7 linked regions of the Homo sapiens genome follow. The protein of the gene in region 1 purifies or fractionates together with the protein of each later gene. This does not show direct contact. Each region holds a gene or a part of one and is shown in the gene's direction. Other genes may lie near its edges. The genes, in order: TUFT1, PKN3, ATF1, RPRD1A, GOLGA5, CLOCK and STRN.

What was found.
Region 2: the proteins of TUFT1 (region 1) and PKN3 purify together in Homo sapiens (affinity purification with mass spectrometry, with the first as the bait; one large-scale study listed by BioGRID). This does not show direct contact.
Region 3: the proteins of TUFT1 (region 1) and ATF1 purify together in Homo sapiens (affinity purification with mass spectrometry; 3 studies listed by BioGRID and IntAct, with this or other methods). This does not show direct contact.
Region 4: the proteins of TUFT1 (region 1) and RPRD1A purify together in Homo sapiens (affinity purification with mass spectrometry, with the first as the bait; one large-scale study listed by BioGRID). This does not show direct contact.
Region 5: the proteins of TUFT1 (region 1) and GOLGA5 purify together in Homo sapiens (affinity purification with mass spectrometry, with the first as the bait; one large-scale study listed by BioGRID). This does not show direct contact.
Region 6: the proteins of TUFT1 (region 1) and CLOCK purify together in Homo sapiens (affinity purification with mass spectrometry, with the first as the bait; one large-scale study listed by BioGRID). This does not show direct contact.
Region 7: the proteins of TUFT1 (region 1) and STRN purify together in Homo sapiens (affinity purification with mass spectrometry, with the first as the bait; one large-scale study listed by BioGRID). This does not show direct contact.

Annotation. Positions count from the first base shown.
Region 1 is NC_000001.11:151,564,309-151,567,808, forward strand, and holds part of TUFT1 (tuftelin), read left to right. Parts: intron 1-216; coding exon 217-306; intron 307-1,854; coding exon 1,855-1,920; intron 1,921-3,500. UniProt on the Homo sapiens protein: Involved in the structural organization of the epidermis. Involved in the mineralization and structural organization of enamel.
Region 2 is NC_000009.12:128,716,003-128,719,502, forward strand, and holds part of PKN3 (serine/threonine-protein kinase N3), read left to right. Parts: intron 1-744; coding exon 745-921; intron 922-2,322; coding exon 2,323-2,385; intron 2,386-2,546; coding exon 2,547-2,623; intron 2,624-3,500.
Region 3 is NC_000012.12:50,770,601-50,774,100, forward strand, and holds part of ATF1 (cyclic AMP-dependent transcription factor ATF-1), read left to right. Parts: intron 1-2,848; exon of another isoform or gene 2,849-3,500.
Region 4 is NC_000018.10:36,029,560-36,033,059, reverse strand, and holds part of RPRD1A (regulation of nuclear pre-mRNA domain-containing protein 1A), read left to right. Parts: intron 1-1,962; coding exon 1,963-2,069; intron 2,070-2,154; coding exon 2,155-2,252; intron 2,253-3,500. UniProt on the Homo sapiens protein: Interacts with phosphorylated C-terminal heptapeptide repeat domain (CTD) of the largest RNA polymerase II subunit POLR2A, and participates in dephosphorylation of the CTD by RPAP2.
Region 5 is NC_000014.9:92,804,305-92,807,804, forward strand, and holds part of GOLGA5 (golgin subfamily A member 5), read left to right. Parts: intron 1-2,431; coding exon 2,432-2,659; intron 2,660-3,500. UniProt on the Homo sapiens protein: Involved in maintaining Golgi structure. Stimulates the formation of Golgi stacks and ribbons. Involved in intra-Golgi retrograde transport.
Region 6 is NC_000004.12:55,452,910-55,456,409, reverse strand, and holds part of CLOCK (circadian locomoter output cycles protein kaput), read left to right. Parts: intron 1-109; coding exon 110-192; intron 193-406; coding exon 407-513; intron 514-2,585; coding exon 2,586-2,733; intron 2,734-3,012; exon of another isoform or gene 3,013-3,280; coding exon 3,281-3,356; exon of another isoform or gene 3,357-3,500. UniProt on the Homo sapiens protein: Transcriptional activator which forms a core component of the circadian clock.
Region 7 is NC_000002.12:36,851,537-36,855,036, reverse strand, and holds part of STRN (striatin), read left to right. Parts: intron 1-3,500. UniProt on the Homo sapiens protein: Calmodulin-binding scaffolding protein which is the center of the striatin-interacting phosphatase and kinase (STRIPAK) complexes.

The DNA of each region.
Region 1 (3,500 bases):
CACATTTTACTTATTTGTCTTTTGTGTCTTGTGTCTCCCCAACAAGAATGTCAGCTGTAGCTCCACTTGACCAAGGTCCCTCCCTCCATCCTGCAGCCAGTCGTTAGGACAGTGCCTGACTCGCAGTACAGGCCAGGGATGGGGCACAGAGTTGGGTGAGTTGGCATGCTCTCTTTCTCTACCCTAAAGCTCAAGTTTCTTCCCCTCCCCTCCCAGGCCAGGAACTGCCTACAGAAGCTCCGGGAGGATATAAGTAGCAAGCTTGACAGGAACCTAGGAGATTCTCTCCATCGACAGGAGATACAGGTAATAGGAAATGGTCCATGGTTGGGTCCCCACCGAGGAGGTGGGGTTGTGCCAGGCAGTCTCATTTACCAATTACCCAGTGTGTGCTAAATCTAGCATCCCTGCCAGGAATGGAGAAAATAGAGGTGATGCTGGCTTCTCTGGAGCACTCACAATCTGGTTAGGACTCTCCAGCCGATGAGCACTTACATTTACACATGTCAGCTTAAACATAAGTACACCTGCTCCTGAAACACTGTACAGAAATTGAACTTATATAAATTAAATATCATCAGTTGTTAGCAAACCTCTTATCTATAAGGATTCTGTGATCAAGCTTCTTATAATAATAGAATTTTGTAAAGCAGACAATCACCTGTAAATCCACACTTCTCATAAGCTGATCTTGCTTAGTTTGGGTGATACCTGTAGCGTAAATTGAAGTCCGTGCCCTAGCCTGTTATTAATCTTGTATATAGTTATGTCTAACCTGGGATGGGAAGTTCCTCAAGGTTAGGAGTTCACCCCACCCCACCCCACCTCGTGTCTGTATCCTCACCCTCCCATTCCCCCCAGGTCTGGGATGTAGAAGGCATCAGTAAATGTTTGTTAGACTGAACAGATTGGGTAAGTCTTTCCTGGGAGGGATAATCCTGGGATCCTGCTTTTCAGTTTTTCCAAAACTCGAGGACAGAAATGTCCTCAGGAGAGCAGAGCTGTCTCTTTGTGACTTCGCCCTCATCCTTTAGATTCTGAGTTGTATCCTTGATTTGCATTTTGGTTCAGGCAGAGTCTTGCTCCAGCAGCAGCCCCTGCCTTCATTCCCTTGAGGGGAACAGTGGCCCAGCAGCTGGTGCAAGGAAAGTTCTTTGTCTTGGGCATGCACTTGTGTGGTGGAAATTACCTAATTTTTGCTTTGGCTGAAGGTAGGTCTTTCAGTGCTTGAGCTCACATCTGGCTGGTGGGAGCTACTTTGTCAGGTATCAGAAGAACCTAATGTGTGCAGAGACTGGCCCAAAGTCCAGCCCCCTTGTTTGCACAAACCGGCTGTCATATGATGAATAATCAGGCTTTGGGTCAGAAATAATTGAAAAAGATCTTCCCTTTGTAATTTTTGCTTTGTCAAACTTTATCAGGATCCCTGGGGGCAAGGGAAGCTCTTTGTTTGTGGCAGGCAGCTGCATGTATTCCCTGGCTAAGAAGAATGGGCTACACATACTTTTCCATCTGCTGAAAGATTTTAGCCTGAGGTTTTTTTCATCCTCCCTACAAGACTTTCAAGGCCCTTTCAAGGCCGCATAACATCTCTCCACCCCCTCTTGTTTCTATTTTCTCATGGAACGCTAGAAATCTTTTCTTCTTTCGCTTCGTTCCTTCTTCCTCTTCTCCTTTCTTCATTCCTTCCTTTTTCTCCCTCCCTTTCTTTTTCTCTCTCCCTCCCCCTCCCTTTCACCTTCCTCTCCCTCTCCCTGTCCTTCTCTTTCTAAGATTTGAGTGTTAGGAGAATAATGTTTCAAAGTTGGTTGCTTTCATCTGTTTTAACTACCAATTTTATTTTTCTTTGAACAGGTGGTGCTAGAAAAGCCAAATGGCTTTAGTCAGAGTCCCACAGCCCTGTACAGCAGCCCACCTGAGGTAGGTAACAGAGGACACCATGGTGGCTCCGCTTAGCCAGGGGCAGGATTGCCTCCTCCCCATCCTTTTGTTTATTGCTTTCTCTCTCTCTCTCTCTCTCATTAAATACAAGAGTAGTAGTTGACATAAAAATTCAAACACAGAGAAATACAAAGAGTAGAAATTCTCCTTCCCCAATCTCTCTCCTTGCGAGTATCCACTGTTAACAGATTGAAGTGGGTGGATCTTTCTAGGGCAGTGCTTCTCAGCCTCAGCTGTTCATTGGAATGGCCTTGCAAGCGTTAAAGGATATGATGCCTGGGTCCCATCCCTAGAGCTTGTCATTTCATTGTTCCAATAGGTGGCCTGGGCATCAGGACTTTTAAGAGCTCTTCAGGTGATACTAATGTTTAGCTAAAGTTGAGTGCCAGTATTCTAGAATATTTTTATATACATAGACAACCATATTTAAATATCATGTATATGTTATATACACACCATATATACATGATAAATATATGTATATAATATACATGTGCTTTTCTCAACTATAAGATCATGGTAAATACATTATTCTTTGCTTGCTTTTTTTTTCTTAACTAAAGAGTATATTATAACCTTCTTTCCATGTCAGTACATATAGATCTACCTCATTCTTTTGAATAACTACATAGTATTTCCTTCCATGGCTGTACTTGATTGATTGACTGATTGATTGATTGATTGACTGACTGACAGAGTCTCACCCTGTCACCCAGGCTGGAGTGCAGTGGCAATCATGGCTCACTGCAGCCTCGACCCCCGGGGTTCAAGCAATCCTCCCACCTCAGCCTACCCAATAGCTGGGACTATAGGGCACGCGCCATTATGCCTGGCTAATTTTTGTAGAGATGGGGTTGCCCAGGCTGCTCTTGAATTCTTGGGCTCAAGTGATCTGCTTGCCTCGCCTCCCAGAGTGCTGGGATTATAGGCATGAGCCACTGTGCCTAGCCTACTTTTTAAATTTTTATAATTATTATTTTTTGGGACAGGGTCTCCCTATGTCATCTGAGCTGGAGTGCAGTGGTGCAGTCATGGCTCATTATATTCTCAACCTCTTGGGCTCAGGTAGTCCTCCTGCCTCAGCCTGGGAGGGACTGTGGCAGCCACTATAGTGGCTGGGACTATAGACACGTGCCACCACACCTGGCTAATTTTTGTATTTTTTGTAAAGACAGGGTCTCATCATGTTTCCCAGGCTCATCTCAAACTCCTGGGCTTAAGTGATCTGCCCACCTCGGCCTCCCAAAGTTTTGGGATTATAGTCATGAGCTACTATGCTTGGCCTCCATGACTGTACTTTATTTGTTATTTTTTGAGATGGAGTCTCGCTCTGTCACCCAGGGTACAGTGCAGTGGTATGATCTTGGCTCGCTGCAACCTCCACCTCCTGGGTTCAAGCAATTCTCGTGCCTCAGCGTACTGAGTAGCTGGGACTACTGGCGTGAGCCACCACGCCTGGCTAATTTTTGTATTTTTAGTAGAGATGGGGTTTCACCATGTTGGCCAAGCTGGTCTCGAACTCCTGACCTCAGGTGATCCTCCCACCTTGGCCTCCCAAA
Region 2 (3,500 bases), on another chromosome or scaffold:
AAAAAAAAAAAAAGGAGGGGGAGGCTGGGCACAGTGGCTCATGCCTGTAATCCCAGCACTTCAGGAGGCCAAGGTGGGAGGATTGCTTGAGCCCAGGAGTTCGAGGCCAGCCTGGACAACATGGTGAAACCCGCCTCTACAAAAAATACAAAAATTAGCTGGGCGTGGTGGTGCACACCCAGCTACTCGTGAAGCTGTGGTGGGAGGATCACTTGAACCTCAGTGGCGGAGGCTGCAGTGAGCCGAGATCGCACCACATCACTCCAGCCTGGGCAAGAAAGTGAGACCCTGTCTCAAAAAAAAAAAAAAAAAAGGCTGGGCGCACTGGCTCACACTTGTAATCCCAGCATTCTGGAAGGCCGAAGCAGGTGGATAACTTGAGGCCAAGAGTTCGAGACCAGCCTGGGCAACACAGCGAAACCCTGCGTCTACTAAAAATACAAAAATTAGCTGGGCGTGGTGGCGCACTCCTATAATCCCAGCTACTCGGGAGGCTGAGGCACAAAAATCTCTTGAACCCGGGAGGCAGAGGTTGCAATGAGCTGAGATCACACCACAGCACTCCAGCCCAGGCGACAGAGCAAGACTGTGTCTCAAAAAAAAAAAAAAAATGAAAAGAAACCATCAGTCTACTTGCCTGGCACTTTGGCTGAGGGCCCAGTGAGCCAGGGGTGTTGTGCAGGGCACAGGGCACAGCCCAGGGAAAGTTTTCCTTCCCTCTAATACTCTTGCTCTCTCCTGTAGCCTGTACTGCGAGAAGCGGATCCTGGAGGCTGTGGGCTGCACAGGGCACCCTTTCCTGCTCTCCCTCCTTGCCTGCTTCCAGACCTCCAGCCATGCCTGCTTTGTGACTGAGTTTGTGCCTGGTGGTGACCTCATGATGCAGATCCACGAGGATGTCTTCCCCGAGCCCCAGGCCCGGTGGGTTCCATCCCTCCTGCCTGCCTCTTCCAGCAAACTTTGCCTGGTTCCCTACACCCACTCTCTACATACTGCTTTCTCCAAGTGCCCAACAGCAGGGGAGCAGGAGTCAGAGGCCTTGGTTTACATCCTGGCACCAACTGACAGCATTTGTGATCCTGGGTATCAGCTTATGAAGCTGTGCATTAGGTTTCTTTTTTTTTTTTTTTTTTTTTTTTTTGTGAGACAGAGTCTGGCTCTTATTGCCCAGGCTGGAGTGCAATGGCATGATCTCGGCTCACCACAACCTCCGCCTCCCTGGTTCAAGCCATTCTCCTGCCTCAGCCTCCTGAGTAGCTGGGATTACAGGCATGCACCACCACTCCTGTCTAATTTTGTATTTTTAGTAGAGACGAGGTTTCTCCATGTTGGTCAGGTTGGTCTCTAACTCCTGACCTCAAGTGATCCGCCCACCTCGGCCTTCCAAAGTGCTGAGATTACAGGCGTGAGCCACCACACCTGGTGAGTCTCAGATCTTTATTTGAAAAATAGGCATGATTGGCCGGGCACCTGTAATCCCAGCACTTTGGAGGCTGAGGCGGGTGGATCACCTGAGGTCAGGAGTTCGTGACCTGGCCAACATGGTAAAATCTTGTCTCTACTAAAAATACAAAAATTAGCTAGGCATGGTGGCACACGCCTGTAATCCTAGCTACTTGAGAGGCTAAGGCAGGAGAATCGCTTGAACCCAGGAGGCGGAGGTTGGAGTGAGCCGAGATCCCGCCACTTCGGTCTGGCGACAGAGTGAGACTCCATCTAAAAAAAAAAAAAAAAAGGCCGGGCACGTTGGTTCATGCCTGTAATCCCCACACTTTGGGAGGCTGAGGCGTGTGGATCATGAGGTCAAGAGATCAAGACCATCCTGGCCAACATGGTGAAACCCTATCTCTATAAAAACTAAAAAAAAAAAAAAAAAAAAAAAATTAGCTGGGCGTGGTGGCGCGTGCCTGTAGTCTCAGCTACTTGGGAGGCTGAGGCAGGAGAATTGCTTGAACCCAGGAGGTGGAGGTTGCAGTGAGCCGAGATCGCACCGCTGCACTGCAGCCTGGGTGACAGAGTGAGACTCCGTCTCAAAAAAAAAAAAAATAGGCATGATGAATATCCACTGCAGGGACCAACACTTGGTCCCTGGCACCATTTAAGGGCCCATGAAGGGTGAGCTGGAAATGCACGCAACCTTGGGGCGACCTTGGGACTATTGGAGCACCCCCACCCTCAGCATGATGCTTGTCCCAGTCTCACTCATCTCTGACTCTGGCCGGGACATCCGGGATCCCCCCGCTATGGCCATCCTGGTGCCTCCCTGCCCTGCCTCCCTGGTGTGTGTCTTGGGCCTGAGTTCTCCCATAACCACCCCTGCAGCTTCTACGTGGCTTGTGTTGTCCTGGGGCTGCAGTTCTTACACGAGAAGAAGATCATTTACAGGTGACTTTTGTCCCAGGGATGCACGGGGGTAGGGGTGGGGGTGGGGGTGGAGTGGGTAAGGACAGATGCTGCCTCCGCCTGCCTGGGCTGCTCCAGGGGCCGTTACTGTTCCCTGGGTCTAAGCCCCACTCAGTCCCTTTGATCTGCACCCTTGCCCTCAGGGACCTGAAGTTGGATAACCTTCTGCTGGATGCCCAGGGATTCCTGAAGATCGCAGACTTTGGACTCTGCAAGGAAGGTGGGGGCCGCCCATTGGGATCCATATCTCCAGCCTTGTTTACCCACCCTGGCCAATAGGATGATGGGCACATGGCATGTCCCAGGAAATCTCCTCACCTGCGGATGCCCTGGTTCCACCACCCCAGACCTCATTCCAGGGGACAGCTGGGCACACTGGCCCTTTCTTCCTAGTCCTAGAGGCTCGTAGCCCCAGCCTGCACCTGGCCCAAGGGAGAGCCTGTGGTCAGGGATGGGAGAGGAGACTGAGTTCTGCCTTCTGTTTTTTTTTTGGTTTGTTTTTTTTTTTGAGACGGAGTCTTGCTGTGCCGCCCAGGATGCAATGCAGTGGTGCAGTCTCGGCTCACTGCAGCCTCCACCTACTGGGTTCAAGCGATTCTCTTGCCTCAGCAGCCCAAGTAGCTGGGACTACAAGCGAGCACCACCACACCTGGCTAATTTTTGTATTTTTTTAGTAGAGACGGGGTTTCACTGTGTTAGCGAGGATGGTCTCGATCTCCTGACCTCATGATCCACCCACCTTGGCCGCCCAAAGTGCTGGGATTACAGGCGTGAGCCACTGCGCCCGGCTTCTTTTTTTTTTGAGATGGAGTCTTGCCCTGTTGCCCAGGCTGGAGTGCAATGGCGCAATCTCGGCTCACTGCAACCTCTGCCTCCAAGGTTCAAGAGATTCTCCTGCCTCAGCCTCCCGAGTACCTGCGATTACAGGCACATGCCACCACACCCAGCTTATTTTTTGTATTTTTAGTAGAGACGGGGTTTCACCATGTTGGCCAGGCTGGTCTCGAACTCCTGACCTCATGATCTGCCCACCTCGGCCTCCCAAAGTGCTGGGATTACAGGTGTGAGCCACCGCACCCAGCCGAGTTCTGCCTTCT
Region 3 (3,500 bases), on another chromosome or scaffold:
CTGCACTTTATACAAACAATCAGGCCAAGTATAATAAAGCAAGTCAGTCTTACCATAATTTGTCTTTAGTAAAAATGGGAAACTGGAGAGAGAAATACTATGTTTCAAAAACTATGGTACACTTGTTATTAAATTCTGGTCTCATTAATTGTTTTTAAGTTTGTTTCTGCAATTTAGGCTAACCCTGCGTATTCTTGTAAACCAACCAGTAATCTCTAATTGTTGCTCAGAAGAAATAAGAGGGATGGGTAATTTAAAAATCTGGATCAGTATTCTGATTCTGGGCACATTACAATCAGCTAACAACCCGATATCAGCTTAGTTCCAGTGGTTGCCTGGTTCATGAAAAGTCTTCTAATTTAGTTTATTTGGAATAACTTTACTTATTTTGCTTTACTCTTTTTTTTTTCTTTCTTTCTTTTTGAGACAGAGTCTTGTTCTGTCGCCCAGGCTGGACTGCAGTGACACCATCTTGGCTCACTGCAGCCTCCGCCTCCTGGGTTCAAGTGATTCTCCTGCCTCAGCCTCCCAAGTAGCTAGAATTACAGGCACACATCACAACGCCCAGCTGACTTTTATATTTTTAGTAGAGATAGGGTTTCACCATGTTGGCCAGGCTGGCCTCGAACTCCTGACCTCAGGTAATCCACCTGCCTCGGCCTCCCAAAGTGCTGGATTACAGGTGTGAGCCACTGTACCCAGCCTATTTTGCTTTACTCTTGTGGAATATATTGCTGTTATACTTTTTGTGTAGGAATACAGGACAAGCTTACTGAACGTTTTCTTACTAATTTTCCAGATACCACCTTTTGTTGAAACTTGAGTTATGAATGAACCTTACCATACTGATGCTTTCTGACTGAGCTCCTTTTTACCCTGAATGCAAGAGACCCTCATAGGCAGGCAGGAATATCATTGCCCTATTTAGCCTGAAGAAGTTATAGAAGATGGATCTTCGTCCCTCTGCAACCCTTAGGATTAAGGGTTCTCTTAGACGGGGGGAAATGTCAGAGGCGTATGAACCAGAGCAACTCCATCTTAAACAGGCTGGGTAAAATGAGGCTAAAACCTACTGGCCTGCATTCCCAGATGATTAAGGCATTCTAAGTCACGGGATGAGATAGGAGGTCAGCACAAAATACAGGTCATAAAGACCTTGATGATAAAACAGTTGCAGTAAAGGAGCCGGCCAAAACCCACCAAAACCAAAATGGCCACGAGAGTGACCTCTGGTCGTCGTCACTGCTGTGCTCCCACCAGCGCCATGACAGTTCACAAATGCCATGGCAAAGTCAGGAAGTTACCCTGTATGGTTTAAAAAGGGGAGGCATGAAAAATCCACCCCTTGTTTAGCATATCATCGACAAATAACCATAAAAATGGACAACCAGCAGCCCTCGGGGCTGCTCTGTCTATGGAGTAGCCGTTCTTTTATTCCTTTACTTTCTTAATAAACTTGCTTTTACTTCACACTGTGGACTTGACCCATTATTTCTTGTGCGAGATCCAAGAACCCTCTGTTGGGGTCTGGATTGGGACCCTGTCCTGTAACAATAGCGTCTCACTGTGTTGCTCAGATTGGTCTCAAACTCCTGGGCTCAAGCGATCCTATCGCTTAAGGGTACAAAGTGTCTCCCAAAGTGCTGGGATTACAGGAATGAGCCATCGCACTTGGCTATATTTTTGCAAGTTTTGTTGTGCCTGAATTGCTCCATTCCTTTTTTTTTTTTTTTTTTCTTTTTTGAGATGGAGTTTCACTGTTGTTGCCCAGGCTGGAGTGCAATGGCATGGTCTCGGCTCACCGCAACCTACGCCTCCTGGATTTAAGCGATTCTCCTTCCTCAGCCTCCCAAGTAGCTGGGATTATAGGCATGTGCCACCACCCCTGGCTAATTTTGTAGTTTTAGTAGAGACCGAGTTTCACCATGTTGGTCAGGTTGGTCTCGAACTCCTGACCTCAAGTGATCCACCCACCTCGGCCTCCCAAAGTTCTGGGATTACAGGTGTGACCCACTGTGCCTGGCCAAGTTGTCCCATTTCTAAAGCTGGGGTGAGGTAACTGTCTAAATATATTTTTCTCTCTCTCTCTCTCTCTTTTATTTTAAGAGACGGGTGTCTCACTTTGTTACCCAGGCTGGAGTGCGCCTAGCCTTTTTTTTTCCCTTCAACTTTTAAGTTCCAGGGTACATGCACAGGATGTGCAGGTTTACTGCATAGGTAAACATGTGCCATGATGGTTTGCTGCACAGAACAACCCATCACCTAGGTATTAAGCGCAGCATCCATTAGCTGTTCTTCCTGATGCTCTCCCTTCCCCCACCGCACCCTCCTCCACAGGCCCCAGTGTGTGTTGTTCTCCCACCATGTGTCCCCGTGTTCTCACCATTCAGCTCCTACTTATAAGTGAGAACATGCAGTGTTTGATGTTCTGTTCCTTTGTTAGTTTGCTGAGGATAACAGCTTCCAGCTCCATCCATGACCCTGCAGAGGACATTATCTCTTTCCTTTTTATGGCTGCATAGTATTCCATGATATATATGTACATGTTCTTTATCCAGTCTCTCATTGATGGGCATATGGGTTGATTGCATGTCTTTGCTATTGTGAATAGTGCTGCAGTGAACATATGTGGGCATGTATCTTTATAATAGAATGATTTATATTCCTTTGGGTATATACCAATAATGGTATTGCTGGGTCAAATGGTATTTCTACCTGTAGGTCTTTGAGAAATTGCTGCACTGTCTTCCACAATGGTTGAACTAATTTACACTCCCACCAACAACGTAAAAGCATTCCTTATTCTCCAAACCTCGCCAACTGTTGACTTTTTAATTGCCATTCTTTTTTTTTTTTTTTTTTTTTTCGAGACAAAGTCTCATTCTATTGCCCAGGTTAGAGTGCAGTGGCACAATCTTGGCTCACTACAACCTCCGCCTCCTGGGCAGCCTCCCAAGTAGCTGGGACCACAGTCACCCACGATGCCAGCTATTTTTTTTTTTCTTGAGACTGAGTCTTGCTCTCTTGCCCACGTTGGAGTGCAGTGGTGCAATTTCTGTTCACTGCATCGTTTCCGCCTCCTGGGTTCAGGCGATTCTCCTGCCTCAGCCTTCCAAGTAGCTGGGACTACAGGTGCCCACCACCACGCCTGGCTAATTTTTGTATTTTTAGTAGAAATGGGGTTTTGCCATATTGGCCAGGCTGGTCTCAAGCTCCTGACCTCAAGTGATCTGCCCGCCTCGATCTCCCAAAGCGCTAGGATTACAGGTGTGAGTCACCATGCCAGGCCGGTAATCGCCATTTGACTGACGTGAGATGGTATCTCATTGCGGTTTTGATTTACATTTCTCTAATGATCAGTAATGTTGAGCTTAAAAAGCTCTTAGTTTATTGCCTAACATATAATGTTTCTTTCTTTGCAAGTTTTCTTTTCTTTTTTCTTTTTTTGGAGATGGAGTTTCACTCTTGTTGCCCAGGCTGGAGTGCATTGGCACTATCTC
Region 4 (3,500 bases), on another chromosome or scaffold:
AGTGCTGGGATTACAAACGTGAGCCACCATGTCTGGCCTGTTTCCATTCTTTACTTGCCCTCTGGGTAATTTTGTACATCGCATGTATTTGGTTATTCTCCACACCGTAATGACTTACAGTTTTATGCTCCAGTCCAGATTTTTTTTTGTTCCAAACCTGTGTGCCCAATTGCCTTTTGACATTTTTACTTGTATGCGTCTCAAACATTTCAGACTCACTGTGTCTGATACAGAACTCATTATGTCCTTGCTTCCCACCGTACTTGTCCCTCCTGTAGGTTTTATACTCTGTGAATGGCAACTCGATCTATCCAGGTGCCTATGCAAGAAATTATGTTACCTTTAAACTCTTCTTTCTCCTTCAGTCCCCATATCTCACATAGTACACATTGACTCGGTTCTTTGGATTTCTTTCCCTTTTAGTTACCATAATGTATTTTCAGTATAATTTTAATGCCCTTTAGTATTGTTTAATTTCTTTAGAAAACTCGACAGAGTTGCAGAGCTGGTCATAATACTTCCTTGCCTTTGAGTGGTTCCCATTTGTTTTAGAGATGAAGTCTAAAGTCCTGAGCAAGACTTAAGGTGTTCCTTCGTGGCACTGCCTATCTCCCCAGACCTCTGTCTCGCATTTATTCCACACAGTCTATAGTCTACAGTTTAAGCTAAATTAACCTTTTTTAGTTCTTTCCGCCTTAAGTCTTCTATATATGTTGCCCCTCCCTAGAATTCAGTAAAATATTTATTGGCTGCATAAATATTTATTATATGCAAAACCCTGAGTAGTAGTGACCAAGACAGTTTTGTTCTACTGGAGCCTACATTTCATTGGATGACAAAGTTAATAAGTAGATAGACAAGTGAATGCATAATGTCAGATGACAAATGCTAGCAAGAAATACAAAGCAGGGAAGGAACTAGATAGTATGAGGGCGCTCAGTTATGTGATGAGATAAAGAACAACTATTTGGGGAAGGTGGCATTTGAACAAAGACTAAAGGAAGGGGTGAAATGAGCCATTTGACTAGGCAGAAAGGATTCTAGGTAGAGAGAATATGTGGCCGAAAAAATGAGATAGCTTATATGCTGGACATGTTTGAGGACCTTAGCAAGGAGATTTGTATGGTACTAGGTATTAGGGAGTGTGTACTGAGGGACTGCCAGAAAGCAGAGCATGTGGGCCTTATGGCCCAGAGTAAGGATTTTGGTTTTATTCTTGATGTGATTGGTAGCTCTTGGAGGATCAAGAGCTGTATAATCTGATTTACATTATTAGGATGCTTTGTACAGAATAGAGTAAAAGAGTAGAGGCTGGGAGAGCGTGAGAAGACTTTACAAAATTCTAAGCAAGAGATAGTAGTGTTTCTGTCTACAGTGATAGCAATGAAGGAGGTAGGAAACAGTTGGGAGTAGTCTGTTTTTCATTTCCCCATATGTCTAGTCTTAAGATCTCAAATTAAATATCATTTCCTTAAATACTCTTCCGGATATCTCTTAAACAGGGCCAGGTCTGTCTTAAGCACTTTGTTCTCTTTTGTGATACTTATAAATAACAACTGCCATAAGCTGCATTTGCATCTCCATGTCAAAGATAGTAACTGGATCAATAAGTATTTGTTGAATAAATTTAAAAAAATAACCTATGAGAAATCTTCCTTAGCCCCATGTCCAGGCCCCATTAGGATAGGAAATCCCTAGCAGCCAGTACTAAAACTTTTACAGTTTAAACTTTTTTTGGTTGTGTAATAATATGTTTATAAAATGTTTACTAGAAGCAAGCAGTGTGTCTAGATCACTTCACTTTTGAGCTGCTGGCCACATAGTGATGCTAAGTAGACATTTGGACAGTTTTTTCCAGGGAATGAATGTCTGATTATATTTAAAGTTACCGTTAACCTTTTCAATAACACTATGCATTGTTACTGTTAACATTTTTCTTTTTTTCTTTTTTTTTTTTTTTAGTGAAACTGATGAAAGTTGTAAGAAGCACCTTGGAAGAGTGTTATCTATTTGGGAAGAAAGGTCTGTTTATGAAAATGATGTATTAGAACAACTTAAACAAGCTCTGTGTAAGTGTAGAATCCTGATCTCTTACCTTGATCTCTTCATTAAAATGTATTCTTTCATTAATACTTAAATGTTCTTTCATTTCAGATGGTGATAAGAAGCCTAGGAAGCGAACTTATGAACAGATAAAGGTGGATGAAAATGAAAACTGTTCCTCTCTGGGATCTCCAAGTGAACCACCACAGGTAGAAATTTTACCCTGTTAAAAGAGTTACAAACTTTTACTTCATGTTGCCACCAAGCTTTATTAATTTCGTTTCACTTCTGTAAATTGATTTCTATTATACTTTTAGGTACAAGAAAGAAGCCACATGAATATCTCTTCCTCATTAACAAATTGCTTATGTTAAATGTAGTATGTTGTATATTGTATATTTTGCATAGAAATCATGTTTTGTATAGAAAGAGGATTTTTAATTGCCAAATATGGTTAGATGTGAGATGTTAGCTATTTAAACTTTTTAAAATAAAACAAAACATGCCTATTTTGTTATGTGATTTTTTTTTTTTGAGACGGAGTTTCACTCTGTCCCCAGGGCTGGAGTTCAGTGGCACTATCTTGGCTCACTGCAACCTCTGCCTCCTGGGTTCAAGCGATTCTCCTGCCTTAGCCTTCCAAATAGCTGAGACTACAGGCACGGGCCACCAAGCCCAGCTAATTTTTGTGTTTAATAGAGATGGGGTTTCACCATGTTGGCCAGGCTGGTCTTGAACTCCTGGCCTCAAGTGATCCTCCCACCTTGGCCTCCCAAAGTGCTGGGATTATAGGCATGAGCCACTGTGCCCGGCTCATGTATGATTTAAATACACTAAAATTTTCATTCTTGGACATAATCACTGCCCCTTTAAGTATTTTTGTTTTTAAATGTAAAAAGTAGTGTTAGAGTGGCCGGGCGCAGTGGCTCACGCCTGTAATCCCAGCACTTTGGGAGGCCAAGGTGGTCGGATCATGAGGTCAGGAGATCGAGACCATCCTGGCTAATATGGTGAAACCCCGTCTCTACTAAAAAATACAAAAAATTAGCTGGGCGTGGTGGCGGGCGCCTGTAGTCCCAGCTACTCGGGAGGCTGAGGCAGGAGAATGGCGTGAACCTGGGAGGCGGAGCTTGCAGTGAACCGAGATAGCACCACTGCACTCCATCCTGGGTGACAGAGCGAGACTCCGTCTCAAAAAAAAAAAAAGTAGTGTTAGAGTGATATATATGTGTTCATACATTTCTTTGTAACTATATAGAACTATGTAATTCTGTGGAAAAATAAGTTAGAATTATTATCTTAACACTCTGTGTCCTCCTACATGTTGGTATGGTATGGTATTCCTTAACCATCAGATTAATTCCAGAAAGACTTTTTTTTTTTTTTTTTTTTAAGTGGGCATTGAGTCTTTAAGCTTCCTCCTTCTATGTTTCAAACATGTAGGCGGGACAGATAAA
Region 5 (3,500 bases), on another chromosome or scaffold:
GTCCTTTCTCCTCGGCCTCCCAAAGTGCTGGGATTACAGGCGTGAGCCACCACGCCTGGCCTACTTCATTTCTTTTTAAAATCTTTATTTTAGAAATTTCAAACATACCAAAATAGAACGTAATGACCTCCTATTATCCAACTACAGTAATCACTCATGGCCATTCATGTTTCATTTATACCCTCCCATTTCCCATCACTTTCTTCACCTGCACCCTCCGCACAATTAATTTGAAGCAAATCACAGATCTTATATCATTTTTTCTATAAACATTTCATTTTCTTACTCTAAAAATACTCTAAAAGCAAATGTTCACACCATTATCACCTTAAAAATGTAATAATTTCTTTCTTTTTTTTTTTTTTTTTTTGAGACAGGGTCTCACCTTTTGCCCAGGCTGGAGTGCAGTGGTGCAGTCTCAGCTCATTGCAACCTCTGCCTCCCAGGTTCAAGCGATTCTCCTGCCTCAGCCTCCGAAGTAGCTGAGATTACAGGCACCCGCCACCATGCCCAGCTAATTTTTAGTAGAAACAGGGTTTCACTATGTTGGCCAGGCTGGTCTCAAACTCCTGACCTTGTGATCCGCCTGCCTCAGCCTCCCAAAGTGCTGGGATTACAGGCGTGAGCCACCACGCCCTGCCAACACTCCCATTTTTAAGTCACGTCTTAGGTGCCCATTCCCTACCCCACTTGATTATTAGCTTTTTGTGGTTATTTTTTCTTTTAGGTAAAATGTACATATATTAAGATGCACACAAATCTTAGCTATATGACGAATGGCAATACCTGTGTAACCCACACCTTTACCGTGTTATAGATTTCCTTTGCCCCAGAAAGTTCCTCATGTTCCTTTCCACTTAATCTCCTCACCCCGTCCCTGAAAGCACCCAGTGCTCTGATTTTTCTCTCCTTAGTTTTGCTTGTTCTAAAACTTCATATAAATTGAATCATATAGTATATATACTTTCTAATCTGGCTTCTTTTACTGAACTGTTAGTGAGATTCATCCATGTTACTGTTCTTTTTTTATTCTGTTTTATTATGTAGTACTCTATTATACGGCTGTACCACAGTTTATCTATTCTCTTTTATGGACATTGGGTTTGTTTCCAGTTTTGGATTATTGTGAATAAAACTGCTATAAACATTTTTGTACTTGCTTTTTTGTGGGCAAATGTTTTCATTTCTCTTGTATAAATACCTAGGAGTGGAATTGCTGGGTGAAACGGTAGCTGCATGTTTAATTTCATAAGAAATTGTAAAACCTTTTCCCCCAGTGATTGTACCATTTTATAGTCCCACCAGCAGTGAGAGGTCTAGTTGCTCTGCAGTGTCACCAACATTTGGTGTTTTTAATTTTAGCCATTCTAGGGGGTGTCTGTTGGTTCTCATTGTGATTTTAATTTGCATTTCCTTGATGACTAAACATGTTCAGAACTTTTTCATTTGATTATTGATATTTGTTTATATAACCTTATAAAGTATCAAGTCTTTTACCCATATACTGATTGTTTTAGTCAGTTTTATTATTTAGATATATAGTTCATTTTCATCACATAATTTTTAGAGTAATTTAAAAGTATACTTGCATTATATTTAGTAACAAAAACAAGATTAATCTGAATTCATGTGTCTCTATCTCTTTGGGTAAGACATGTTAGATTCCAGTTTGATTAAAAAAAAAAAACAAAAAACCTTGTAGTGACCTGTTATTACTCTTCTTGCCTTGAAACCTGCAGCTACTCTATTGTGCCTTCCCAATTTTTCAGTATTTGAGACTTCTCCTGGTTTTTTTTCCCAAAAGCATTTTGGAGACAAAAGGAAATCCAAACCCATTTTACCTGAACCCAACCACTCACATGATCTCTGATGTTCTCCCCAGAATGGTGTTGTACTGTCTGTTGTCATTCATTCAGTGTATCCAGACTTGAGTATCCTTAGAGGTCCATATGCCCCATTTATGAGAATGAAATTTAATCAGAGGGAAGACTATTGAAAATTTGTTTATTTATGTATTTTTTTTGAGATGGAGTCTCGCTCTGTTGCCCAGGCTGGAGTGCAGTGGTGCAATCTTGGCTCACTGCAACACCTTTGGCCTCCCAGGCTCAAGTGATTCTCCTGCCTCAGCCTCCTGAGTAGCTGGCACTACAGGTGTGTGCCACCACACCTGGCTAATTTTTGTATTTTTGGTAGAGATGGGGTTTCACCGTGTTGGTCAGGCTGGTCTCAAACTCCTGACCTCAAGTGATCTCCCTGCCTCGGCCTCCCAAAATGCTGGGATTACAGGCATGAGCCACCGCGCCTAGCTGAGAATTTACTTTTTATGGTGTTTTAGCTGTAGCAGTCAACTTGAGCATCCTACCAAAGCAAGTTGTTAATGCATATGTGATGAACACGCCAATGTAACAAAAACGTATTCTTTTTTTTACAGAAGCTGCCAGTAACTCAGATTCTAGCCATGAAGGTCAAGAGGAATCTTCAAAGGAAAATGTGTCATCAAATGCTGCCTGCCCTGACCACACCCCAACACCTAATGATGATGGCAAATCACATGAACTGTCTAACCTTCGACTGGAGAATCAGCTGCTGAGGAATGAAGTTCAGTCTTTAAATCAAGAAATGGCCTCGTTACTCCAAAGATCCAAAGAGACTCAAGAAGGTAGAGGCTTAAATTGTTCAGGATTAGGAATTTAACTTTTAAAAATAAACTTAAGGCTGGACGCAGTGGCTCGTGCCTGTAATCCCAGCACTTTGGGAGGCCGAGGCGGGCGGATTGCCTGAGGTCAGGAGTTCAAGACCAGTCTGGCCAACATGGTGAAACCCTGTGTCTACTAAAAATACAAAAAAATTAGTCAGATGTGGTTGCAGGCACCTGTAATCCCAGCCACTCAGGAGGCTGAGGCAGGGGAGTTGCTTGAACCAGGGAGGTGGAGGTTGCAGTGAACCGAGATTGCACTACTGCACTCTAGTCTGGGCAGCAGAGCAAGACTCTATCTCAAAAATAAATAAATAAAAATAAAATAAAATAATAAACTTAAAAACTTTAAACTGTTAGAAATATTTACATTTAAACTGTGAGAAATTAGATGCGACTTGTAAAATGATATTTTCATAGAAAAACTGCCCAGATTTGGAAATGGGACCAGTCATCCTCCCACCAACCCAAAACATAAGAGTATTCGCTTCTTTGGTCATCCTTTAAGAACCATGAAATTGAAGAACTGAGAGGAACAAACTAGTAGTAGTCTAGTTCATTCATTTATTCTGAACTTTCAAGGGAAGCTGTTCCATTAAACAAAGTAGTAGGCACTAATAGAGTTGCAGTGTTGCTGCTCTAGGGCATATAAAAGGTACATGGAATTCAGTTCAGTGCCCTTGGGAATTGTGCAGTGAGGTGGCCCTGGAGTAGAAAACCTCAAGTTCCTCAGAAATAGGTAATTAAGAAGGAAATAATCTCATTATGGAGGTAGTGACTGAGGAAGATGTGAATGTTATTGTAA
Region 6 (3,500 bases), on another chromosome or scaffold:
ATTACAGGTGTGAGCCACTGCACCTGGCCATGACTTATTTTTATATGTAGCAATATTTAATATTCTTAAGGACACAAAGTATTTATAAATTTTAATTATTTATTTGTAGGAAATGTGCACTGTTGAAGAACCCAATGAAGAGTTTACATCTAGACATAGTTTAGAATGGAAGTTTCTGTTTCTAGATCACAGGTAATTCCATTTTTAAATTCCATGAAAAGGTAATAGTCATGTTATATAATTCTTGAAATTAATGGATCAAGGGCAAACTTTTTTTTAAATTAGGACTTTGAAACCTGTTCCCATTTTTTGAAAAATAAAGCCCCCCCCCCAAAGTTTATTTCTAGTTGAAATATTTCTTATTATGGAAAAACTTATAATAATGATTGTTTTCTGTGTAATTTAGGGCACCACCCATAATAGGGTATTTGCCATTTGAAGTTCTGGGAACATCAGGCTATGATTACTATCATGTGGATGACCTAGAAAATTTGGCAAAATGTCATGAGCACTGTAAGTAGATTTTAACATTTCTGGTGATAATAACTGTTTTATAAGCAGAAGTCCTGTCCTGAAATGATAGGTAGTAAGACACAGATTTATAATCATTTTCATATTTTTGAAATATGCTAAAAGATTTTGCTTTATGTATATAACCAATGTAGTAGGAATCATAGATCAAGTTTAAACTTGTTCCTATTTTTATAATAAGTAGAATTTTATAATATTGCATCTAATACACCTTGTTCTGAAGCACGTGAGCTCTATATCTGGAGTAAGAGAAGTAGATTCCTTTGAAAATTGTAATACTTCAAACTTTTGGAGTATTGTTTCCTAAATTTTGATTTTGAGGCATGTGAATCTTTTCAGGAGCTAGGTACATGTCTGGAAAATCTGTCTTAGAAAGCTCATAGTAAGTGCTTGGTGTTATCTGCTTATTATTGTTGTTAGAGCAGGAGCATTATCATCCTTTGTGCCAGGCACTGTTCTAAACACTTTACATCTATTATCTTCATTATTCTCCATCACAGTTCTAAAAGGTAGATGCTATTATTATCTTCATGAGTAAGCTGAGAACACAGTAAGGCTAAGTAATTCACCCATAATTTCATAGCTCATTGGTGGCAGAGACAGGATTGGAGCCTAGGCCTACTCTTTTTATCACATGTATTTATTTTAGAAGTTTGTTTTAATGATGAGGTTTGCCTTAATGATATGTTTTATTTGCTTCTCTGATCCTCCTCCCAGATGCTTACCATCTTGAGTGTTCACTAAAGCTTAACTAGATATTTTAGACCTTTTCATGACGTTTTATGCTGCTGTTATAAACCTCACTGTATGAAAATGAAGCAGGTTGTATAATAGCATTAACTCTATGGAAAATTTTCAGAGTAAAGTCATTTCAGCACAAAAGATGTGGGCATTAAGCACCATGATGTTGTCTAAAGAGCTGATACCTCTATTAACTAGCTGGGTAACTTTGGACAGCAAGTTTGTTTGTAGACCTTGATTTCCTCCTTAGAGAGTGAGAGGCGGTGGCGGCGGGGTTGGGGGGTGGGGGGACAGATTGAGAGATTCTTGACTAGCATTTTCTAAGGTTTGTTCCACCGAATGTTGGTCCATAAAAAAAGACTTTATAGTCAAGGAAGATGGGGAAACACTTCATAATCCCTCAGAGAATCTGCACATGCATTAGCATACTCTAGGTTTTGAGAAAACTGAAGACACCTATTTAACAAAAAGTTTCCCAAATTAATTTAACTACAAACCCTTTTTTTTTTTTTTTTTTTTTTTTTGGGATGGAGTCCTGCTTTGTCACCCAGGCTGGAGTGCAGTGGCGTGTCTCAGCTCACTGCAGCCTCCACCTCCCGGGTTCAAGTGATTCTCTTGCCTCAGCCTCGTGAGTAGCTGGGATTACAGGCACGTACCACCATGCCTGGCTAATTTTTGTATTTTCAGTAGAGATGGGGTTTCACTATGTGAGCCAGGGTGGTCTCAAACTCCTGACCTCAAGTGATCCTCCCACCTCTGCTTCCTAAAGTACTGAGATTACAGGCGTGAGCCACCACACCTGGCCCAAAACCCATTTTTTTGTTTAATATCTGTTAAAACGCTTCAGAACTTAAAATCCACAGCACATGTTTTGGCAGTTACTGCACTCAGTTACTTCAGACTCAGTTACTTTGATTTTGGTTAGTTAAGGTTTAAAATTAAATGCTTCAAAGATTCTGTGCCTGCCAGAGTAGTTAGGAGAAAAAACTCAGGGGTGATTATTTATTGTTATTACCCTCTGTATATCTAGGCAGGAGGAAGTCAGCAGTGTGAATTCTTAAGTATTAATTGTGTATGGAAAGATTGTAAGATCAGCAGTGACTAGCTGTGAATTGGGCACTGTAGATCTGATAATTGCTTGGGACCTTAAACTAGCTCTAAAGAATAACATTTTCATATTGACATATATGTTATCAAAAGGCCAGAAAAATAATAGTATGTGTAAACTTAAATGTAAATGATAGCTTTTGGTTAAAAAACAATCTTTATATAATATGAATTAAAGAAAAAATATTTCTCTATTTTCCTTTTAGTAATGCAATATGGGAAAGGCAAATCATGTTATTATAGGTTCCTGACTAAGGGGCAACAGTGGATTTGGCTTCAGACTCATTATTATATCACTTACCATCAGTGGAATTCAAGGCCAGAGTTTATTGTTTGTACTCACACTGTAGTAAGGTAATAATTCTTTTAGAGAATTTCTGAATTACTGTAACATCCTATGATGATTTTGGCATTGTAACTTTTATGCGTAAGTTGTTAAAGAGCTACAAAGTGCTCTTTTCTCAATTGCTGATAGATCCTTTCAATATATTATTAAATTTACTTATAGGCATTATATATAAATATAGGAATGATATAGATATATAAGTCTTGATATAAATTTTGTGCTTTACAGCAGAAGTTGTTACTGTCATTTATGTAGTAATGTCAGTCATGTAAAAGGAAAACTGTAGGTAGATAAGCATACACTTCCTTTATTTATTTTTCTTAATTTAAGTATTGTGTGGTTATGGATCGTTTACAGCAGTGTATGAAACTTTAAGATACCTAGAAAAATGCAAGTTAAATTAAGACATTATAGGTATATTTTAGGTTTGTGTAGCACATAGCAAATAGTCTAGATGAACAGATGAGACACGTAACAACACTGAATAGTTACAGCTGTGCAGTATTTTAAACGAATGACCAGACACTAAAATTTGATTATTTTTTCCATTTGTAGTTATGCAGAAGTTAGGGCTGAAAGACGACGAGAACTTGGCATTGAAGAGTCTCTTCCTGAGACAGCTGCTGACAAAGTATGTTTCTTATAATTAAAAAAAATTATTTTTAATTTCTCCCCAATAAAAGATGAAACTCAATAATTAATAGGAAAACTATTTTTCAAAAATACTTTATTTCCTCACTTATAACGGGGATGTGATTATACTTTACTACTTATT
Region 7 (3,500 bases), on another chromosome or scaffold:
TTTATGTACATTTATAACTATACTGTTTGAAATAGCATTTGAGCTGTTATGGGTCAAGTTTTATTTTATACTAAATGATTAATTTTCAATTCTATTTGAAGAAAGCCATATTTATTCTGAATAGGAAATTCTATTTTTCATTTCTCGTAATTTCATATTTTAAATCAACTTAATTTTATATTAATAGTATGATTTGGTACAGCTCAATACAGATCATGTTGTGGCACTCAGAATTCCAAACCTGAAGCTTCTTATTGGATGCAGGAAGTCAGGAAATAAGTGCTTTTTCAGGTTATGAAGAAGATATTACAGACTCTTTTTTGGTTTTTGGCTTTCTTAACCATTGCTTTCTGTCGTTAGCCATAATCTAGACAATCACAGTTTAGGTTGCAGTTGATGAAGAATACGACATACATATACTCTTGTTTTAATCTGAGAACTAGCTTTAAAAGTGATGATATGTTGTGTGTGTGCACATGCATGTGTGAACATGTACATGCATATGTTTACATATGTTCTTGTGGTGTTCTCACTCTCTGTCTCTCTCTCTCTCAAAAAGTTTCTTTATTCCTTTGTGGTTTTCATCATTTTCCCTTCCTAACCTGTTGTTCATTGTTTTCTTCTGATATGCTGAGACTTGTTTGGGGAAGTAAGCATGAATAGAACTTTGAGCTACTTGGATGTAAACGAGAGAGACAGGAAAATAAATTAAACTCAGGTGATAGAATTGGAAAAGGAGAATTTTTTTCAGCAAGAAATTACAGGTTTTAGACTCTCAATAAATTTAAAATCATGTTTAAATATATGACTCAAAGCTACAGTAGCAAAATAAAAAACTAATATGAAATTAGAAAGGATGAGAACATTTTTGTAATTACCTTCAGAGATTATATGGCCAATTTGTGAACATCCTGAGTGGAAATAGTGCTTTTTAATGACTGCAGGTTAATAAGATGTCAAGTCTGGTAGATAAGATGGATAAAGAGAACTAGGCGAGTGAATCCACATTTTCCCCCAAGAGATGTGACTCTAAATTAATAGGACTTTTTACTTGACACTGGAAACATTTTGAGAAAACTTCCAAGAATGTTTTTAACAAAGGCAACATTACTGGAATAAATGATCATTATTTTGAGTTGTAATATGTCCTGACATTTTCTAAATTATGTTTTTTACTTTTAAAGTTGTATAAAGAAAACTTAAATTAGTCTCTTATTATGTTTTACTGTGAACTACCCCTTGTTATTTATAATTGATTGTGTTGTTCTGTTTTGGAATTTAGCATATTTTTTTAAAAAAATGAAAGGACCAAACAAGCTTCAAGGAGAAAGTGAGTTTTATATAGAGTTTAAAGTGATGAAGGATGTTTGTTAGAATAGGAATAAATTACCCTTCTTCTCATTGATGTCAATGGCGATTTGACTGTGGTAAAGTCAAAGGTAGTTGAAGCAGATACGTCACAAGCTAGGTATGAGTAGTGTTCTTTGCATTCTGCCGACTTCTCTGATTTATCATCAAGTGGAGAAGCTTCCTTAAAAGTGTTACCAAATAAGAACTTTCTTTTGCCTGTTTCCATGATTTGATTTCAATCATATTTATTTTCTAGCTCTCAAAGCAATTGAGGCTATTCTCTGAAACGTCTCTCTCAGAATATATGGGATATTTCACTTAAAGTATTTCTTTTTTTGTTGTTACTGTTATTCTCTTGCTGGACTTTACCACGGGTGTTGCTCAATGGAGTATTATCTGTGGAGGAAATAATGCGTAGTCTGAATTTTATAAATAAACATCTCTTTGTTTAGGATCTAAACCAGGTGTAACTGACTAAGAACTTACTCCACATGGTCAAGTGAGTTTTTGTTTTATATTTATTTTTTTTTGAGACAGAGTCTCGCTCTGTTGCCCAGGCTGGAGTGCAGTGGTGCGATCTCAGCTTACTGCAACCTCCACCTCCTGGGCTCAAGCGATTCTCCTGCCTCAGCCTCCCAAGTAGCTGGGACCACAGGCGTGTGCCACCATATCTGGTTCATTTTTGTATTTTGCGTAGAGACAGAGTTTCACCATGTTGGCCAGGCTGGTCTCGAACTCCTGACCTCAAGTGATCCGCCTGCCTCGGCCTCCTAAAGTGCTGCGATTACAGGTGTGAGCTACCGTGCCCAGCCACATTTTATATTTAAATAACAGGCTGGGTAATTACCTGCCACTAGCATTGGGAAAAGACTGTCTTCAGTTTTTAAGATGTTATATTTCTAGGAGCCACATGAAAATCCTGTAAGATTAGACTATTTTTAGCTGTATTTTCTATTATGTGAATATAAACTTGTAATACCTATTCTAGGGTTCAAAAAATTTTTTAAACTCTATTTTGAAATAATTTTAAACTTGCAGAAAAGGTACAAAAATAGTACGAGAACTTCTGGCTACCCTTCACACATATTTAGCAGTTTTTAACATTTTGTCACATTTGCTTTTTCACTCTATATATGTGTATAATTTTTAATTCTGAACCATATGAGAGACGTCATGCTCCTATTCCCCTAGATCCTTTAGCGTGTAATTCTAAGATCAAGGGCATTCTCTGATGTAGTGTATTACAATGATCAAAATCCGGAAACTTAACATTGACACAATACTATTATCTGAATTACTATTTATATTCAAATTTTGAGAGTTGTTCCAGTAATATATTTTACAAGGACACCCCTTCCTCTCCCTGGACCATAATTTAATTTTTAAAACTTTGACATACCTTCAATTAGTGTTTTCTTTATGTCAGTTTTTCTTTTCTCTTAAAAAAAGCTTAACAGAAATCACTGAGGTTTTAAATTACTGATTTCTTTTTAATAAAAGCCTTTCAGGAAGAATGTGTGATCATTTAGGAACCAATTTTGACAGTTGTGTGATCTGCATGAACCATCAGGTTGGGAGAGAGTCAGAAGTTAGAATAGGTACTGATTTTGTCACCTGATTGTGGAGGAGTCACAACTTTTTCTGAACCTTGATGTGTTCACTGTAATATAGGCTTAATGATATGTGCTTGCCTGTCTCATTGTGTGTATAATTGAAGTTTCTTTGGAACTTACTAACACAAAAAATACAGTTAGGATGCTGACTTTTAGGATTCCAAACCTAGTTCTGTCAAATGACCATTTCTATTATGATGAGGAAGAGTGATAAAGGGATTTAAGGATTAAGAAGCCCTCTTTGTCATATATATCTTTAGATGATAATGATGTGATACAGAACTTTGTATGCAAAAAGAGCTGAGATTTAAATTTGAGAATTATCTCCATGTAAGTGATGATAGAACTTACTTAAAGTAGCAAAATCTCACAGAACATTGTAGAATGAACAGCGTTAGTGGCTCTAGACTAAGCCATAGATGGCACCCACATATAGCAGGAAATTGTAATTTATAAATATTTCCAGATTTATCAGGCAATTCTCTTTCCTAACATTGAAATTTTGAAAACAGTCACAGAATAAATGAACTAAAGACA